Homo sapiens: one gene and its partner. The protein of the gene in region 2 purifies or fractionates together with the protein of the main gene of each other region. This does not show direct contact. Each region holds a gene or a part of one and is shown on either strand. Other genes may lie near its edges.

The links. Proteins that work in one complex are often made in the same cells at the same time.
Region 1: the proteins of SMYD2 (region 2) and EPB41L3 purify together in Homo sapiens (affinity purification with western blotting; 2 studies listed by BioGRID and IntAct, with this or other methods). This does not show direct contact.

What each region holds. Positions count from the first base shown.
Region 1 is NC_000018.10:5,533,959-5,540,997, forward strand, and holds part of EPB41L3 (band 4.1-like protein 3), read right to left. Parts: intron 6,467-7,039; exon of another isoform or gene 6,382-6,466; intron 1-6,381. UniProt on the Homo sapiens protein: Tumor suppressor that inhibits cell proliferation and promotes apoptosis. Modulates the activity of protein arginine N-methyltransferases, including PRMT3 and PRMT5.
Region 2 is NC_000001.11:214,277,191-214,284,171, forward strand, and holds the start of SMYD2 (N-lysine methyltransferase SMYD2), read left to right. Parts: upstream 1-3,968; 5' UTR 3,969-4,064; coding exon 4,065-4,237; intron 4,238-6,981. UniProt on the Homo sapiens protein: Protein-lysine N-methyltransferase that methylates both histones and non-histone proteins, including p53/TP53 and RB1. Specifically trimethylates histone H3 'Lys-4' (H3K4me3) in vivo. The activity requires interaction with HSP90alpha.

The DNA of each region.
Region 1 (7,039 bases), on a different chromosome or scaffold from region 2:
TCGAGACCAGCCTGGCTAACACAGTGAAACCCCGTCTCCACTAAAATACAAAAAATTAGCAAGGCGTGGTGGCGGGCGCCTGTAGTCCCAGCTCCTTGGGAGTCTGAGGCAGGAGAATGGCATGAACCTGGGAGGCGGAGCTGGCAGTGAGCCGAGATCTCGCCACTGCACTCCAGCCTGGGTGACAGAGCGAGACTCCGTCTCAAAAAAAAGAAAAAAGAAAGAAAAAAAGAAACCCAAGCATTCTGAGTCCAAGGCCAGGTTTCTTTGCTCTATGCTAAACATTTTCTTCAACCTTAGTACTATTTATTTATATTATATCTTCTTTCCAGGTTAAACGCTCATTTGACAATAGTGAAGAAGCTGGAAAGTCATTAAGACAAAAGTCGTTAAGACAGTGTGTCTCAAAATGTGGTCCTGGGACCACCTGGATCAGATTTCACCAAAGTACTTGTCGGGACATAAGGAGGTCTGGATCCAACTGCAGATCTATTAGATGATAATCCGTGGATTGGTCCCCAAAAATTCCTTTTTAATAAACTCATCAGGTAATTCTGTTGTATAACCACTGTGTCTCATTCTTTGCAAACCTCTACTGTTATCTGGAGTTTCATACTCAAAAAATTCTGCATTCTCATAGAGGGCCATCTTTTGGATTACGGGTTTTGTGGTGGAATGTCACAAAATTCTACACTCATCCTGAGGGTCATCTTTGGATCTTACAATTACTAAGACATGTCCCTAAAAACAAGCAAAGAGGACAACAGCATATACTACTGAAATGAGAAAACATGTACTATGTGTATACTCTCATTAGACTGGTTCTAGATGTCTTCAAACACAGATCTCATTTCAACCTGGAGGTAGGCAGCATCGTCATCTGTTCACTCTGGGGAACCTTGCCTAGAGAAATAGAGTACTCCTCCCACAGTTACCTAGCTCAAGGTTAGCAGATGTTTCCATCTGTATCTTCTCTAGCTCTTTGTATTTTCTTTATTCTGCAACAAGGATTCCCCACCACTGGGCCAAGGACAGTGGTGGTGAGCGGTGGGTGAGTCAGCATTACCACCTGATCTCCGCCTCCTGTCAGATCAGAAGTGGCATTTGATTCACATTCTTGAGTGAGAATGTGAGAATGTGAACCGCACACGTGAGGGATCTAGGTTGTGCATTCCTTCTGAGAATCTGATGATGTGAAGTGGAACAGTTTCTTCCTGAAACCATCCCCCACAACCCCCGTCCATGGAAAAACTGTCTTCCATGAAACCCCAACCTCTGTGCCAAGGACAGGGCCACACAGCAGGAGGTAAGCAAAATGGAGGTCCTTGGTGCTAAAAAGGTTGGGGACCCCTGTTCTACAATATAACTCCCCCCAATGAATTACTGCTCTCATTTCAAGAATTCAGAGGAAAAGTTTTCCAGACTTCTTGAGCAGACAACCTAGTCAATCTCTATTTTCCAAGTCTTATACTTAGCCAGTAAGCATATTCCTTCTAAAGTTAATAAAAGTTGTCACTGAGTAGCACAAAATGGTATAAAACACCAAAATTCATCAAGAATAATTCTCTGTAATGAAACTACCCAAAACTCCCTATATCTCTGGGATGTTAGTAACTCTAGGAAAAAATTACGTAGAAATATGCAACTGTCCGGGCCAGCCTGAGACCTCTAGATGCCCCGATGGCATCATCTCACAGAAGCCTGGGTGCACCATTCCAGCTAGCACCACCTTCAGGATCATAAAGCTATTCTCCCCAAATTGGTGAATGAAGACTGGATTCCAAGTAAATCCAAGATCAGTCAAAATCATGGGATTGTGAATAACATAACAGAGCAGCCCACATCCCTGACGAGGTGGCATAAAATCTGTGAATGGAATATGACATTTGTTACCATTCTGTTGTTGAGGACGAAGGAAGGGTTGGGAACTCAGAGAGAGATCAAAGGAAGCTTAATATTTTCCATCTCTGGGAGCCCAGTGACCCCGTACACCTACTAAACTATCCCAGACCCTGGATATTTTGATTCTGGAGAGTCTAGTTCAGGTCCAGACTGCTGCATCTGCTGTCCCTCGAGGCATGCCAAGAGGCACATGGGAGAATGATGGGCACCCAGGAACTCAGGTTAGGCTTTGCTGGATGAGCTCGCCCCTCTATAAAGAGATGACATTAAAATCTAAATTTAAAAAAGTCAGGAAATCTATGGTGAAAATTTGCTTGTTTTAGTTTGTTAGAACTCAATATTCACACACAACATTGAGATATACATAATAATCATCAGAGATTTTAATTTTTTTAAATATCCTGTTTTACCACAAGCCTCCTGATGTGTATATTAGAAGAGAGTCATGAAGTGTAGGCAGCAAGCAGAAGGAGGCAGAGGGGCTGGACAACAAGGCTTCACATCAACACCATCATTAAGGTAATGATCCTTTATCAATATTGCACAAGACCAAAAGAAAATATTTATTTACCATTAAAAATAATGATGTGGGTATAGATTTGCATGCATGAAAAAGCTCCTCCGAGACATACTGTTACATTTAAAAAAAAAAAAAATTTGGCCTGGTGCGGTGGCTCACACCTGTAATCCCAGCACTTTGGGAGGCCAAGGCGGGCAGATCATTTGAGGTCAGGATCATTCGAGACCAGCCTTGCCAACGTGGTAAAACCCCATGTCTACTAAAAATTCAAAAAAAAAAAAAATAGCTGGGCAGGGTGGCGGTTGCCTATAATCCCAGCTACTTGGGAGGCTGAGGCAGGAGACTCGCTTGAACCTGGGAGGCTCACTTGAACCCGGGAGGCAGAGGTTGCTGTGAGCTGATATCGTGCCACTGCACTCCAGCCTGGGCAACAGAGTGAGACTCTGTTCTCAAAAAACAAACAAACGAAACAAACAAACAAAAAATGGTTACATAGAAGTATTTAAGACAGAAGTCTATTCATGTAAAATATTATGTAATCTACATATGAGTCTGTATATGTACAAAATGATGCTACTGCTATTTATGAAGCACTTGTGATATACCAGATACTGTGCTCAGTGTTTGCATGTATTACATCATTTAATCCTCATATCCTTCAGATATAAGCATTATGCCCATTTTATAAACGAGCAAACAGGCTCTAGGAAGTTAAAAGAACCATGCCACATAGTTATTAAATAGCAAGGCCGAGAGCCCAACCCAGGTGTGTCCTATTCCACTCTGATACGTAATACATTCAGAAAGGTAGATAATGACATTGCCTTTTTTGGTTTTTCTGTATTGTTAGACTATATTTTAAAGTGAGAATGTATTATTTTTAATATCTCAAATAACTGAGATACATTCATTGAAAGGATAAGGAAAATCTTCCCATATTTCGTATATCTCATTTTCTACCTTAAACAATCCAAAAGTAGTATTTAATCCTCAGTTAAATACTCCCACAAAAAGATGGAATGAATTGCCAAAATATCAATCATTGAGAGAAAAAAACATCACATTCAATTTCTGCAAAATTTTGGATAACTCCATTAACTAAAGACCATCTGTCTCCAGATTCCTATTCTTCCAACTCATCCTACACTTATCACCAGAAAAAATATTCTTCTTCCCTACTCAACCACTTTCAATAACTCCCCACTACCTAGCAAAGCCCCAAATATCCCTTAGTCTCATATCCAAAAACCTTCCACAATCAGGCCTCACACTCCCTACTTAGATGCACCTCCCATTACTCCCCAGCATACAGGCTATATTCCAGCTAAAGGCAGGTCTCTTGACTTCTGGAATGTCCTATCTGGAATGTCTTCTCAATGACTAATTGAGAGTCTCTATCAAAATCCAGTCATCTTCCCAAGGCCAAAATGGAAAGTCAAAATGGGAAATGAAGAATTTTCAATAGATTTTCCCTATAAAAGGATCCTTTTATAGGAAACAATCAATAATACATAGAAAAACAATCACTGATACACAGAATGGACAGTGTAAAATAAGCATTACATATTATAAAGTACATTTCAAAAAATTGCATAGCCAAATGATAAACCATATTTCATAAGATTCATGACACTGATTATAAGAGATAACATCATGTTGTATAGCACTCTGCCAATTAAGCTATGACTCACACATTTTTAGAAACTGGAATTTTCATTTTCTTCTTATCTAAAGAACTCTGATTGAGTTATTCAACGCATAAAGAAAATATAAACAAAATAGATTGGCCAAGGTGTTCCCAAAAATTCTTACATATTCAGAATCCAACTCTACCAAATTGCACGTCAACTAAGAGTTACTGCTGTCTATGCTTTTCCACACAATATCAACTTGGGTCACCACGAGCACTAGAAATGTATCACTTAAGAGTGCTCCATTACTGTCTCCAGGATTTTCTCCAATCCACTAACATCCAATGTCCAATTTTTGATGCATATTCACAAACAATGAATTAAGTTGCCAGCTTTTTCTCTGCAACATGGCTGAGAGCCATGTAAGACATATCCCAATTTCAGAGATGTTAAATGTGAAAAAATAACTTTCTTTTAGAAATGATGAAATTTGGGGCTTGAATCAAATACAAAGAAACTCGCTATTTGAGGATGTAAACACAGGCATGTACAAAAATGACCAAAGAAGAGAGAGCTAAAACAGAAAATAGTTTTCCTCTCTTTAGTTGAATGCTAGGAGATCAATATCATCTCCCAGCACTAATCCTTTTCAGCTTTTGTCACCCTACCATTTGATCCCTCCCCTCTTCAGAGGACACCCTCCACACTGATGTCCTCCATGACACCAATTAGAGCTGGCAGGAAAGGAAACCGACTCCCTGCAGTTCTTCCCTCAAAGAAACCATTCTTCTTTTCTCTTGGTACCTGCAGAATTCTCTTCCCTGATATGGCAAAACCTCTAGGATCTACCAATTTGAGCTACAGACAGAGGTAACAACCTTGTTATGAAGAGGACCACGCCATTAAAAATAATGACTACATACATGAGTCTGGTAATTCTCATTTTTAAATAAAGCAGCAGTGCTTTTTAAGCTTTCTCCAAGATTTTTTTTTTTTTTTTTTTTTTTGGTAGTAAAGCGTAAGTTACAAATGGCCCCATTTTTTATACAATTTCGTAAGTATTTACTGAATGCTTTAAGTGTCTAGACCTTTACTTGGTTTGGGAAAGAAACCTGAAGAGAAATAACTCCCTATCCTCATCAAGCACCCACCCAATATAACTGGAGAGAAAAATATATACTCAAGGCAGGTTAAATATTACATTTGTTTTCTAGGTCTAATATAGACCTTTCTGCTTTCTCTCTCTCTCTCTCTCTCTCTCTGTTTTTAGTTTGTAAGGCAGGGTTATAAGAACAATGTATCAAAATGTCAGCAATCTAAAAATTAAGTTGTCAGCTTTTTCTCTGTACTGCAAATTACAAAAGAATTGGTGCTAATAGAAGCTTACAATTCCAAAGTATGCAATTTAACCAATCATCGCAAGGACTAAAAATGCAACACCAAAGACATTTCAACCAAGTAATCTGCAGTTCTGGCATCTAATTTCAACTTGTCTTCTTGTGCCATTCTTCCCAATTTGTTTCTTCTTTATGCTTTGAAACTGTGCTCTGGAATTGCTACATAGTTAAGAAAGAACTGCCCAGAGCTCCTACATACATAATACACTCACATGAAAAATGTCAGTCATGGAAAAGACAAGGAACATCTGCAGCCATTCTGTGGTTCTTCATTTTTTATGCTGATATTACTATAAATTCAGAAAGGAAAACATGAAATATACTTTATTGCTTCCGAATTTCAGTCTTATCATTTATTCAACACTAATTTGGGTGAAATATGTCTCTGATCATCTCTGCACTAGAATTCTAAATTAGGATTAAAATGCTAAATTATAAAATAATTAGTACATAAAACAAAAATGGAAATGGAAATCAATTACTCCAAATCACTGCAGATATCTTCTACTTATGAAACACCTTTTTCCATTTTTTCCTATTGCCAACTGCAATCACATCACTTAAAAATAAATGAGAACATTGCCTACCCAATAAGTAAATTGCATCTTTAGAGAGACCACATACTTTTTTTAAAAGACATTACTAATAACCTAAATCAAGAATTTAAAAAGAATGCTGTTTTAGTACAAAGAACAGTAAGAAATATGTTGCCTCAATATATAAATAAAAATATACTCATTTTTCTTGTTCTTTAATTTTGTAAATGGCCCTTCTAAAAAATTACAGTTTTCTCTACAAAAGGAATATTCAGTGCTTTCTACTATTTCACAAAAAACAAACAAACAAAAAACGTCTCCTTCCTTACTCTTGGAGACACATTTTCCCATGCAGTCTTATATTCATTTACACCTTTCAATTCTCCAAACAATACCTCGCAATGCAGTTCAACTTGAGAAAGGAGTCTCATTGATTGATCAGGCAAAGTTTTAAAGCCAGCAAGATGCTTCAGATGGTCTGGTTTTGCCTGCCCCACCCTTGTTTCCTTTGAGCCATAGTGATGTCACAACACCAGGCAGGACAATGACTTCACTGCTCCAGTCCTTGCTTCTGAGCACAGAATTCCCCACAGCCAAGGCAAATCAAATAACAGCAGAACCCTCCCGGGCTGAGTGCCTGATGAATTCCCAACAAATCAGCAGCTAGCTAGCCGTTTGAAAGAAATAGATGCAGCGATTGCACGATTAAGGATCTCTCTAACTGAAGTGGTGCTAAAGATAAATTTGATTCATAGGTTTCAATGGTGAGTCTATATTTCACGGAAAACTGATGGGGTACTTAGGGGAGACTATGGGAATTAAAGACGGCCAGGGTAGATTACTCAAGAACCCTCTCTCCGCCGGGCGCGGTGGCTCACGCCTGTAATCCCAGCACTTTGGGAGGCCGAGACGGGTGGATCACGAGGTCAGGAGATCGAGACCATCCTGGCTAACACAGTGAAACCCCTTCTCTACCAAAAATACAAAAAAATTAGCCGGGCGTGGTGGCGGGCGCCTGTAGTCCCAGCTACTCGGGAGGCTGAGGCAGGAGAA
Region 2 (6,981 bases):
CCCTCTCATCACTGCCTCCATAGTCACATTGCTGCCTCCTCTCCTGTCTGTGTCAAATTTCCTTCTGTCCTTCATCAGAAAACTTGCAACTGCACAGAGAACCCACCTGGATGTTCCAGGATACTCTCACTCTCTCAAGATCCTTAAAACACATTTGCAAGACCCTTTGAAGCCATTTATAGATTCCAGGGATTGGAACCTAATATCTATGAGTGCCAACATTCAGCACTTCATAACTGTTTTCATGTATGTTGGTCTTTACACCTTGGTATGACTAGGATCTATCACAGTGTAAGTACATAGTATGTCCTCAATAAGTGACATGTAGACATAGATGCAGAACTATACAGCATCTAGGCCCTTTGCTCACGTTCACTGGGATACCTTCTTTGCTAAGGCTTCATTTCCCTAGGCCAGAGCTATTTCTTTCATGTGCTAATCTGTGGTTGGAAGGATCTTTTACTCATAAATTAGATCAACTTCTAGGTTAGAGAAATTAAGCAAAGGAGTTTTCGTCCTTGTACCACTTCTCCTGAGTTTCAGTGAGGCAAAGTAACCAAAAACACTCCTTTCAAATTCCATACCTCCTACGTTATGGAGCAGAGGGCGTAGGAAAAGTGGATGGGTCCTGGCTGCTCAAAGACTTCACGGAATGTGAGATTACAGAGTGGCAGAGTGACAAGTATGGGCTTCATGAAGAGCGCTGTCATCAGTCTCCCCGGGCTGGTTTATTGCCATTCTTTGGCTGTTTATTTTAAACACAGTTTTCTTAGTAATTTAAGCTCCTAAATTCATGGCTACTGCTTCAGTGACCATTTCCCCATCTCGAGTCATTTAAGTTCATCACAGGGATTTTTCTGAAATGAGGCGGTTTCTTTTCCAGTGTTCTCAAATCACAGTCACCTCCACCCTCAAGAATAAGCCAGCACTCATCTGGAAAGATAATTCGGTAGCTATGTAATTGCTTTTTTCTCAGCTGTGGAAATCTTTCCCAATTAAAGTGGAAAAAGTTACTTGCAATAAAAAAAGTAAACAGGTAGATTACTTTGCACAATTAATCATTGAAACAGTAAACTGTCTACTGTATTGTAATTGTTTACTTCTACGTCAGTCTTTTCATCTTTTTGCTGGTTAGAGCCCCCAGAAATCAGAATGAGATTCCATGACGTTTATTCAACCTTTAAATATTTTTTCCATTCTCTCTGTGTTCCAGGAGTAGTGATAAGAGCTGGTGATGTAAGGGTAACAAAAACAGACTCATTCCCTGCCCTCATGGAGCTTGTACAGTCTGGTGGAGGATGTAAACACTAATCAGGTCATCACACAGACAAATGCAAACTGTCAGTGGTCTCACATGCCAAGGCTGTTTATATACATGTAAACAGTTATGAAGTGCTGAATGTTGGCACCCCAGCCAACCCACAATGCTGCTGGCAGATCAGTCTAAAACACTGGACTCAATGTGCCACCCCTCACTTAAACGCTTTAACTGGCTCTCCCATGGCCTCTGGGGCAGAACTCACCTCTGGAGAAGATGCTCTTCAGCTGTTCCTGCCTCATTTCCTGTCCTCTCTTCCAGATGCTCAGGGGCCCCCAACTACAAGCTCTGTGCTTTCAGGGTCTTCTGTCTTTGTACGCAGTTCTCTCTGCCCAGAAAACTCTTCTCCCCACCTCCACTTGCAAAATCCTGTCCATCCTTCAGGCTCAGCTCTAACGTTACTTGAATGTGATGCCTGTCTTGACTGTTTAGCAGGCTAAAGCTGTCACTCCCTGCCTGTACTACCACAGAACATTTTGTACAAGCCACCATAACTGCACTTATCCCAGTGAACTGTGTTTGTTTGCAGCAAAACACTGTGGTTAGGAACATGGACCTTGAATTCAGACTGACTTGGAAACCAAATTCTGCAATTTATTGTGTGGCCTTGAAAATCATTCCTTCTGGGTCTTAGTTTCCTTCCTAATTTTGGCAATGAGGGGCATAATACCTAACTCATTAGCCTGTTGTAAAGATAAACCAGATAATGTGTTTAATGATGGAGCACGATGCCTGGTCAACAATACTCAATAACTAATGGTATTATCAAACTTGAATGTGCCAAATGCAAGGACCTAGGACTACATTTTGTCCACTTTTTTTTTTTTTTTTTTTTTGAGACAGAGTTTCGCTCTTCTTGCGCAGGCTGGAGTGCAATGGTGCGATTTTGGCTCACAGCAACCTCCACCTCCCAGGTTCAAGCGATTCTCCTGCCTCAGCCTCCCGAGTAGCTGGGATTACAGGCATGCACCACCACACCTGGCTAATTTTGTATTTTTAGTAGAGATGAGGTTTCTCCATGTTGGTCAGGCTGGTCTTGAACTCTCGACCTCAGGTGATCCGCCTACCTCGGCCTCCCAAAGTGCTGGGATTACAGGCGTGAGCCACCACAGCCGGCTGATGTCCATCTTTCTATCCCAGTTGCTGGCCATAGTCAGTCGAAGTTTCTTAAAATGCATAAATGAAAATACTATCATAACTTCCTTTACTTGAAGACGGGTTAGAGGCTTATTTAGTTTGCCACTAATAAGGGCTTTTTTGTTTTCTTTTGAGACAAGGTCCTGCTCTGTCACCCAGGCTGGAGTATAATGGAGTCACCACAGCTCACTGCAACCTTGACTTCCCAGGCTCAAGCTATCCTCCCACCTCAGCACCACTTGAGAGGTGGTTAATTTCCCATAGAGACGGGGTCTTTATGTTGCCCAAGCTGGTCTCCAACTCTCCAATTCCTGGGCTCAAATGATCCTCCCACCTTGGCCTCCCACAGTGTTGGGATTACAGGGCTGAGCCACCACACCCAGCTGATAAAGACATTTTACTGAAATGCCAAAAATTCCACTGATTTTACATCTCCAATCATATTAATCCTTTCCCTTTGCTCAACCAGTCCTGAACTTACACAGGTAACTGTTTGAGGTCCTATTTTGAAGTAGTGGTTTCTGCTAAATGATCTCGTCACAATTTTAGTCTTTACTGCATGTACATCAATTCCAGTCTTTACATAATCATGTGGAACACGGATTATATTTTCCTTTCTCATATGAAAAGTAATAGCGTGCATGTGTATAGGATTTACGTTTCAGGCTTTGTGGGCTTTAAATCCTTTGACTCCTAACCCAAGTGACTTTTCTAAGATCACAGTTCGTGGGTGGTCAAGCATATTAAAACTACTGCAAACTCTAGCGCAGTGTCCTGGACACTGGCCACAGCATCGCATTATCCCCCAACAGCCTAAATTCCTTGAAGGCAAGGTTCTCTCTGGCTTCCTCTGCAACGTTCGCAGCATGCCTCAGAGACTCGGTGAGCTGGGCCGGCCAATGCATTTCCTCTTCCGTCCATGTAATTCCACTAGAGGAGCAGAGGGCAAACTACGTTCCCATTAAAGCCACAAGGTTTAAAAACCTCTAACCTTGGAAAAGCACACTTCAACCCTCTGCACACCAAACTTCTCTACTGTGGTTTCCCCTCTGCCGCTTTCTCCTTGGCGTTCCCCGATCACTGCCTCTAGGGTCTTTACAAGGGACAGCGAACGTAAGGTTTCGGAGCTGGCTTCGCCCCCTTCTATTTACCGGGGGCTGGTCATCCTTCGGGCCAGGCTGACTGTCTAGGGGTGGCCCTCGGATACCTGGTCCCCGCAGGTGACCCCCCTCCCTCCCACCGAGGAGGAGGGCGCGTCCCGCTCGCTCCGTGGAGACGCCGCGGAGGCGCACACGCCTCACGCCTCCTCGCAGAAGCCACAGGGGCTGCGGCTCTTTGTCGCGGCCACACCGGAAACGGCCCGGAGCGCGCGCGGGGCGGCCGCCGAGGGTCGCGGCGCTAGGCGGGGCCGCCGGGCCCGTCCCCCTCCCCGCGGGGGCGCGCGAGGCCCGGGCGGGGCCGCCCTCCCTTCCGGGGAGCGGGGAGCCGCCGCCGCGTCCGCCGGGCGGCTCCCACCCCGCCCCCCGCAGCTCTAGGTGACGCGTCTCCAATAACAGCTCGCCGGGAGCCGCAGCTCGGGCACAGCCGGCGGCCGCGCCCCGCCGCCACCATGAGGGCCGAGGGCCTCGGCGGCCTGGAGCGCTTCTGCAGCCCGGGCAAAGGCCGGGGGCTGCGGGCTCTGCAGCCCTTCCAGGTGGGGGACTTGCTGTTCTCCTGCCCGGCCTATGCCTACGTGCTCACGGTCAACGAGCGGGGCAACCACTGCGAGTACTGCTTCACCAGGTAGGGCGGCGGCGGCGGCGGCGGCGGGCGGGAGCCGGGGGCGCCGAGCGGGAGGCTTGGACGGCGGCGCCAGGAAGTGCGTGCGGCTCGCGGGGTCCTAGCGCCGGCCCTTGGGGCGGGGTGGGGGGCGGGGAGGGGAGGAGGCCCCGCGCTGCGGCCCCGCGCTGCAGCCCCACGCCAGGCGCCACGTGCGAGAGGAAACAGGACCGGTGCCCCGCTGCACGCCCTGCACTGCACGTTTTCAGAGTTGCTCACGCTGGATGCGCAAACCCGGGCGTGCAGGTTCCTGCCCTCAAATGTGGGCTCCGAGCCAGGCTTGTTCCAAGCCTGGGCACTCACTGCCCTCCCGGTGCATTGGCAGCGGAGCCCCAAATTTGGGCAGCCACGGGCTGTCACCTTTAACTTATGCTTCCTGCGGTGTGTTCTGTTACCCACAGTCCAGCCCTGCCTCAGATTGGCCGTTTCTTCCAAGGAATTTAATGACTTAGTATATGTCTTGTAAAGTACGCTTACATGTTAAAGTACGCTTACATGGGTGTTTGGAGGGACGCCAGTGGGCACTGACCACACCCCCTGGATTCTGAGGTGCTGCGACGATGAGTTGCAGTGTCCAGTTTCGGTTTGGGATTAGGAAAACATGGTCGCAGGAAGGGATTGGGCAAGATGTGTGGTTGCTAATGGTATTTAATTGTAAGATACCATATGTATATATGTGTCTGTGTTTGTATATATGATGCATATACATTTGCACACACCAACACATAATTATATCCTCAACTCTTATGAGAGTTTCAGAGCTTAAAGGCACATTAGAAATCACCAATTCAGTCTTGTCTTTCACTTAATGGATGAGAAAACTAAAGCCCAGAGAGAAAGTGGAGTTACCTTTATCCATTCACACCAGTAGTGAAGGGAGTGAAATCTGGCCTTATTCACTTCTGCCTATTTCTCACTGGTTAGGTGCTCAGTAAATTTACTAAGGCAGGAGGCATGGCATTGGGGTTAAGTTTATATCAGGCCTTCCAGTACTCTGAGTAGAGACCATGATTTGCTTTCTTTGAACCTCAGTTTCTTCATCTTTGAAATGGAGATTCCTGGGCTGGATTAAGCTGACCTGCGGTCCTGCAGGGACCTTTTGAGTACAGGTCTCAAGTCCAGCATACTCAATCTCTCAGACCTGTGTGCCTCATTCTACAATAAGACGTAGCAAAAGAAGGGACAAAGGCTAAATATTGTAGTAATCTTGCCCAGACTCCCTGCCAGAACTGTCTTCCGCTTGGGGGGACCTGGAAAGGAACTAGACACGGAATCATGCCGTGGGCAGCTTAAGGGCTGTATGTGATGTGGCTCTTTGAATTGGTGAGCCAAGAGCTAAAGGGTCATGGCACCACTTTGCAACGTTTGAGTGAAGTGAGCATTGGGTTTTCCCAAAGTTAAAAAGGCTGCTGTGACTGGTCCCTTGATCTTCTGAGCCTTGCTGTGGCTCGGAGTCTGCAGCAGCGTGGGTGTCTGCAGTGGCAGGAGCAAAGCAGGTCAGGCAGCACAGAAGGAGCCTCCATCAGGGATCCTGGCAATTCCTGGAAGCCATCGCCTAAGACCATGGATGCCAGGCACATAGTAGGTGCTTACTTTATATGGGTAGTTGCCAGCCCTGGCCCCCAGTGAATGAAAGATCAAATCCCTCTGGATTTAGAAGGGATGAGAAGAACTGAGAGATGCTTCTCTTTAGCTTTAAGTCTCCTAATTGTATCTACTACGCATACCCCCAACCTTAGAACATTAATGGATGGTCAGATGCAAGTTCACAAAGCATTCAGCCTGGATTATTCTGCCATATGTGACAGTTTGCTGCCTCTTTTGTTGTTAAATTTTTCTGATTGACATTTATTAGTGTTACTCACTGTTGCCTTGGGTCCCTCACCAGGGCTGCAACTTGCAATGGGGTGTTATTACAACTTGCAAACCACTTCTCTGTTTGATTTCCCTGACCTTATGTCAATACCCGTAGTTTATTTCCTCTCTCTCCCCAAAGAATTATTTGAAGTCAATTAAAATAATACAAAAGAAATAATATCCATGATACTTATGCAATTAGAAATATCCTTGTACCCTACTTCATGATTTCTATTAAATCTGAATCATTTACTATTAGTGGTTAGGTCATCTGATAGATTCAGCATCAGTTCCTCTGTCAGCAATTTGTATATGACTTAGGACAAATCAGTCTGTCCAGATGTATGAGGGGAACGTGTATTTTCCTCCATAGGGCCTCAAAGTATAGGAGTAGAATTCTGGAAATGTTCATACTTACAGGTCAAAATCTGCTGCCTGCCCCAGCTCCACACACCCAAAAGAAAGCTACCCCTTATCCTTTCTTTTGCCAGAAGTTTAACATAAACAATACTGCTTAAGATAAATGAATGACCCAAGAATTTCCATGTCATACTAATTGTATCAGGATCTAACTTTTTTTGAAGAAAAGAAAAGTGATTTCTTTAGGTAGGAATAAGTATATGCTATAAATTGAGAAATAATGGAAAATGTCTTAAGTCTCAACAGAATGGGATTCTTACGGTCAGGGCAATTCAGACAAAGGTTTGCTTTGGGGAATTTTTAATTTGTATCACATTTCTCAGTCTGGTGGGTGCCATTGGAGAACATGCGTATCTTGCCTGAACTGCTAGAAGGCAGCTCCTAATAATATTATATAAAGTTTTTCCACTTGGAAGCTGTCCCTATCAGAC